2 linked regions of the Homo sapiens genome follow. The protein of the gene in region 2 interacts with the protein of the main gene of each other region in a pairwise test. Each region holds a gene or a part of one and is shown on either strand. Other genes may lie near its edges.

What was found. The genes of interacting proteins can lie anywhere in the genome.
Region 1: the proteins of CCDC88B (region 2) and TSHZ2 interact in binary tests that used the Homo sapiens proteins (3 or more experiments, as listed by UniProt).

The regions. Positions count from the first base shown.
Region 1 is NC_000020.11:52,978,858-52,982,357, forward strand, and holds part of TSHZ2 (teashirt homolog 2), read left to right. Parts: intron 1-3,500. UniProt on the Homo sapiens protein: Probable transcriptional regulator involved in developmental processes. May act as a transcriptional repressor.
Region 2 is NC_000011.10:64,346,704-64,350,203, reverse strand, and holds part of CCDC88B (coiled-coil domain-containing protein 88B), read right to left. Parts: intron 874-3,500; coding exon 746-873; intron 654-745; coding exon 536-653; intron 1-535. UniProt on the Homo sapiens protein: Acts as a positive regulator of T-cell maturation and inflammatory function.

The DNA.
Region 1 (3,500 bases), on a different chromosome or scaffold from region 2:
ATCAGGGAGAGCTTATCCTTCTATCTTTATAGAGTCTGCTTACCCCAGAATAGGTTTTTACATTCATTTTTCAGTAATTTGTAACAATTGGTATTTTTAATTTTTTTTTTAAGTTTTACAAGTTCTATTTAAAGTTAGAAATTCTCACATTCCTTAGGGTGATCTTTGGCAAGCAGCTCTTCGATTATAGGAGGAAGTTAGTCATTCTAACCACATAAGAAAGTGGAGAGTACTTGCTTGCTTACCTGAATATTACAGTAAGAAAAAAACACCATCTATTTACATGCCTCTAACATGTAACACTATTTTCACTGGATTTATAATTTCTTTTTTTTTTCCTCCTACTGACCTTTCATTCACTTGTTTTGGGAACTTTTTCTGAGAAGAACGTTTAGAGATAGCATTTAAAGTGGATTTCAAGATACATCAGATTTTAAGACATTGTAATAAAAATTAGAGACTTCAGAGCCCAACGGTTCACTGCTAGTCTAGGTCTGCAAACTAATGAGAAAGCACCTCTGCAAACACATAGTTTCAACTTTAACTTGCACATGAATGGGGAGCGTCTCCAGCAGTGTGGCCGTATCCATATTGCTCATTTTGTCCGAGAAATTATTTTGTCCAAGGGTATCAGACTGAGGTCCGTTCAAAGACATTATATACATACACAGAGACACAGAAGAGAAATCTGAGATGCGAGTGGGAATTGCTGATATATTTGTTTCCAAAGCAAACTCCATGAATGAAATGATTCAATAATTTGGAGGCATTTGAAAGTCATTAAAATGGCCATTTGGAATTTTCAGTTGTTGCCTCCCTCAATTTTTTACGTTTCCCCTGTAGAAAAAGACATCCTCTGGGCACCCTCAAATATTCTGGGATGCTAAAGTCATGCTAAAATTATTTACAATTTTAGAAATTAAAATTCAGGAGGCACAGCAAGATAATCCGATTATTAATATATCAGTATTATTTAGCTATGCATAACAACAGGAAAACGCACAATGCAAAAGTTTTAGAGATAATGAGCTTAGAGAAATTACATGGGGGGAAGAAATACCTGGATCATATTTGAAAGCATTTGTCTTGAATTCTGCTCATCTAAATGAGAGCTCTCTTTCTACCTGTGTCATTTAAAAAACAATTTCAATATCCTCCTACCTGCTACCCCAGCCTGAAGCAGGGACTAATGAAACTCTCTCTGGACACACAGATGTAAGACACTATATTACACAACACTTTTTAAAAAATTGTTTCAGAAAACCAAATGTGGGCATGCAAACCAAAAGAAAAACCTCAAGGATCTTCGTAAGATAGCTAGCTCAGGGTTCAAGATCAAGAGAACTTTGTTGCGGCAGGATAAGAAGACAACAGCATTGCGTTTTAGCTAAACATCTCTTCTTGGCAAATGAGAAGCGGTGAAGCAGGGAAGATTTTTTTAAGGAGCTTTTTAGCTCTTTTGCATCTCTCTCCAAAGACTAATTTAATTGAAAAGCTGTAGTGTCCATTTATGATTAAGGAAAGGCCTCATGTTTCCACAACACTGCTAGACACTAAGGTGGGTTTGAAGAAAAAAAAAAAAAGGCCAGCATTCTGCAGTTTCTGTTAGTATAAAAATTAAGATCACTGGTCTTAATTACTTGAGTGCTTTCAGAACTGAAGGAATACTCTAAAATCACCCCTGAGCTTTCTTCTTAAAGCCACATCTAAGCCATTTCTATGGAAATTATATAGTTTAGATATTAAGGTGGGTAGAATACAGTTATTGCTTTTAATGAAAATAGTTACGAAGGGCAGAATGAGATAAAAACAGAGTTGGCAGCAGCCATTCTATTTGTAATGAATTTGAAAGAAACTTCCGTAATGCTTTACTGGATCATGAAAAACCCATGAAACCTTGTGACATGGGAGATACAAAAATGAGACAGAGGGTCAAGGTCTTCTATAGGGGAAAAATGGCTTGTGTAAGTGAGAGCAGTGGCATATAAATATCTCTATATAAACTGCACAGGGCTTACTTTAAATCACTTCAATTTATCAGATCCTTGGAATTTTTTTTATGTATTTAGGAGCCTCTCTTTTATACCCCAGAGAGATATGAATAGCTTCTGGGCCAAGATGATGCTGTAGAGAAGAGTCAAATCTATTCTATGTGCACGGTGCCATTTGGTACAGAAGAAATGCCAAAATGAAAAGCCATAAATGCGTTTTATATCAGAATTGCCTTTGGCTATTTTCCTTTATTAGAAAGTTGGGTACACTGCTGAGTGCTTCTTCTTGTTTTCCCCCTTGGGATTAGATTTGAGACTGTGGATGGAACAGCGGAGTAAGGGCAAGTGACTTGGGTTCTGGTTGCAGCCTTGCCCCACGCTAGTTATTTAGCCCCGGGCAAGCTCTAGAGATAAACCTTACTCTCCGGGTAAGAATGTGAGTTTTTGGAGTCAGACTGATTGAAGTTCAAGTCTCTAGGTCTAATTCTTATTCGGCCGCGTAAACTTGGGCAGGCTGCTCAAATCTCTGCCCTCCACTTTCTAATCTATAAAATGGGGGCAATCATATGTTCCAGGTGTGTGGAAAGGATTGTGTCAGAGGAGGGCTGAGAAAGTGTGCTGAAACTGTTAGGCACCACAGGGATACGAGGGAATAGTGTGTCTTTACCCTGAATAACCAGACTATGGAAAATTTATATTAACTGGGAAACAAGCAACTTACCAGTTATCACAGAACAAGGGGTCCAGGGCTTGAAAGAAACCAGATATGGATGGATTTTGATTTGTAAGCCTGGAAACACAATGGCTAAGCAGTGTTTTAGCCTCTTCTCCTGAGGCAGACTCATTCTGGGCTGTTTGGAGTCCAGCACCCGCTCAAAAAAGAGTTTCTTTCCCAAGAAATAGAATTTATAGCACCACCAACAACGGTAACAATGGTAACAATGATATCTGCCACTAAACAAGTGCTTTTTACATACCACGTGCTTTATATGTTTACATTTATTCGTTTACACGGCAGTTATTTCTTGAGTTCCTACTATGTGTCAGATGCTGTTCTACTACCTGGACCTGGAGGTGAATAGGATGGGGATGATCCCTGGGGATCTTGCCCTCCAATTGGGGGAAGCTAGAGAATATACAAAGAAATTTATAAAGGAAAAGATAATTTCAGTATAGAAAAAAAGCTTCATGATGGCAATAGCTTTATAAAAGCAAAATTATGAGAGCAGGAGTTGGGACAACAGAGATGTAGATGGTCAGGGGAGACCTCTCAGAGGAGGGGACATCTGGGCTAAGTCCTGTTCCTTATAACTTTCAAGTATAATCCCTGTTTTACTGATGAGAATCTGAGTAAGTTGCAGGATAACTCATTCAAGTTCGTGCGGTAGCCAAGCTGAGTTTTAAACTCAGCTCTTCCTGCTTCCAAAGTCCATGCATTTAATTTATTATGATCGTTTATCTAGAATAGTCATAGCGAGTTGCCAGGAAGGACCCAAGGAAGAACCCTCA
Region 2 (3,500 bases):
TGATAGACTCGCATGCACCTGCTGGGTATCTTGCTGGGTACCACCCTCCCAAGCCCCTGCATGGCCTCCTCACAGCCCCTGGCACCTAGTTATTGTCACCTGTTTTCTTGCCTCTATCCTGACTGTCCTGTGAGCTCCCTGAGGATGGCAGCCTGGGATTGGGCCCCACCACCACCCCACCCTCCGTGTGGAGCCCGCACACAGCCTGGGTATCAGAAACCATCGCTGGCTTCCTTGATGCCAAACACTGAGCTCCCTAGGCAGTGGAGGACCTCGGGTGAGACAGGCGGAGCAGTCATCCACAGCAGAAGTTCTGTCCATGTGCAGAATGGGGAAAATGAGACCCCAGATAAGTCAACACGGCCACCTGACTCCCAGCACAGTGCTCTCTCCAACAGGCCCCACATGGGGAGTGAGGCAAGTAGCTAGCCAAGAATCCAGAGGCAAGACTAGGAGGACAGATGACCCTGGCATCTGCTCATGGGATGGAGGGCAGGGTGGCATGGCCCCCAGCTCCCAGGCGGGCAGGCATCACCTGGAACAGCTCCTCTTCCAGCTGCAGGGCCCTGGTCTTGAGCTCCATCAGCGCCTCCTCCTTGCTGGTCGCCGCCGCCTGCAGCTCAGCTTCCAGCCGCTGCTCCAAGCCCTGGTACCTGCCAGGAGAATCCTTAGCACCCAGCCCCACCCCACCCTCGCCCCACCACACCCCTGCCTCCCTCATTCTTCCCCTCAGCCCTGTCCCCACCTCTGGTGCTGGCTTTCCTTTTCTCGCAGAAATTCCTGGCGCTCGAGAGCCGCCTGCTCCAGCTCACGCTGCAAATGCTCCAGCCGGTCCCCCAACTCCTTGCCCCGCACCACAGCTTTCTCCAGCTCCTGAGGGCAAGCAGAGCAGGCTCAGGGCAAGGGGGCAGGAGACAGCCGGAGACAGAGGCCTGAGAGTCAAGAGAGCTGCCTTTCTGTCCTTGACCTGCCATCCTGGGCACGTATCATTAAGCCTTTGGGCTCTACTTCCCCATCTATAAAATGGGAGCAAAGCCTGGGGCCCTTGAAATTGGGCATGAAAGAGCTGGGTGTTGTAAGCCTGGCAGGGCATGAGGAAGGCCCCTGGGCTGGGAGTCGGTAGGTGACACATGTTGGGCAAGTGCCGTCACCTCTCTGAGCCCACGGTTCTTCATGTGCGCAGTGAAAGGTGGATGCGCCCGGTGGGCTGCCACCCCAGCCATGTGACAGCGAGACAGCTAGAGAGGCTCAGCAGAGGTGGGTCGGGTGAGAGACCTTGGCTACAGGGAAAAGGCCACGGAGGGCTGGAGGGACAGGAAGTCAGGAGCTGACAGTGGGGGCTGGGGGGGCAGGGGGCGCCAGGATGCTGCCAGCTAGGTGACCTGTGGCCTTTGGCGGTTGGGCTGCACCACTTTGGAAGGAGACGGGAGGCCCATTCTGGCCTGTGTGCCCCAGAGGGAGGGAGACCAAACCATTCTGCCACATGGGGGGCCTGGCAGGATGAAGCTTCGGGGACAGCTGCCCATGACCAGCTGCCAGCCAAATCCTGCCTTGGAAACCAAGCCTACAAGCCTTGCTGCTGAAAACTACCTTCCTGGCTTAATAACTGCACCTAGGCCTTGCCCAAGGGGCACTGCACCTCCTGACACTCTTGGCCACCACCTCTCCCTGAAAAACTACAAGTCCGATGAGGCACTGCTGCCTGGCTGGCTGACAGCCACTAGCGCAAGTACTGGGGTAGGAGGCACGGTGAATAGAACCTCCCGCCCAGCCCCTGCCCTGCCCTCCTCCGGGCCCTGGCCACAGCCCTCCTAGAACCCCCTCCCCCAAGCCTGGGAGGCTTCCCCACCCAGTGGACAACCTGAGACCCCCTGGTTCCCTGACCTCCCCCTGGCCAGCCACCTTCTCCTGCTCCAACCAGGAAATCTCACAAAATTCCCCCTTTGTCCCTAGCTTCCCCCACCCTCTCAGTCCTTGGAGCCGGCTCTTCCAGCCCGCCAGCCCTACCCTCACCTTCACTGCCTACCTGCTGCCATTCCCTCCCATGGAACAGGTCCATTCTAGGTGCCAGGCATTGCCCCAAGCTCCCTACGCTCATTATCTTACAGGATCCTGTGAGGCAGGTACAATTTTTTTTTTTTTTTTTTTTTTTTTGAGACGGAGTCTTGCTCTGTCACCCAGACTGGACTGCAGTGGCGCGATCTTGGCTCACTGCAACCTCTGCCTCCTGGGTTCAAGCAATTCTCCTACCTCAGCCTCCCGAGTAGCTGGGATTACAGGTGCGTGCCACCACACCCGACTAATTTTGTGTTTTTAGTAGAGTTGGGGTTTTGCCATGTTGGCCAGGCTGGTCTCGAACTCCTGACCTCCGGTCATCCGCCCACCTCAGCCTCCCGAAGTGCTGGGATTACAGGTGTGAGCCACTGTGCCCAGCCAAGGCAGGTACAATTTTTATTCCAGTTTTACAAGTGAGAAAACTGAGACTCAGAGAGGTTAAGTAACTTGCCCCAAGCCACACAGCTGGAAAGTAGGCAGGTCGCCCGGCTAGACAGCATCTCAGCCACACCCCACAGAGTGGACCCCAGAGATGGTCTCTCACCTTCCCTCTCACATTCGCCAGAACCCCCTTACCCTGGGCCTGTCTTGCACAACGCCTGACCCCATGTCTACCCAGCAGTGTTCTCCCCACCCCCCATCCTCATAATGGGTCTCTGAGCAAATTACTCTTCCTCCCTGAATTTCAGGGTCCTTGTCTGTACAGAAATGGGACTGGAAACTGCCTGTGCAGGATGACTCAGTTCCTACCTGTGTTGCAATCTCACAGGTCCCCTAGCACTGGGGCCCATTGGCCCAAACACCCTTCCTCGCGCCTTTTCACACGCAGACCTGACCACTTTGCTCACTTTGCCCATTGGGGAGCCTTCAGTGGCTGCCCAATCCCCCATGGCAAAAGCCCTAACCCCTTCCTTAGCTTGGAAGGAAGCTGAAGCCACGCCCAAACACTGGATTGCTAGCTTCGTGGTCACTGCTGTGTGCCCAGAGCCTGGTACAGGGCCTGGCACCAAGAAGATGCCTGTAAACATGTTTAAATGAATAAGTAAAAGTGTGTTGGCCAGGTGCGGTGGCTCACGCCTGTAATCCCAGCACTTTGGGAGGCCGAGGCGGGCAGATCACAAGGTCAAGAGATTGAGACCATCCTGGCCAACATGGTGAAACCCTGTCTCTACTAAAAATTCAAAAAATTAGCTGGGCATGGTGGCATGCACCTGTAGTCCCAGCTACACGAGAGGCTGAGGCAGGAAAATCGCTTGAACCTGGGAGGTGGAGGTTGCAGTGAGCCGAGATCACGCCTCCAGCCTGGTGACAGAGGGAGACTCTGTCTCAAAAAAAGAAAAGAAAAGAAAAGAAAGAAACTAGCCAGGCCAACATGATGAAACCCCATCTCTACTAAAAATACAAAAATTGGCCGGGCGCGGTGGCTCACGCTTGTAATCCCAGCA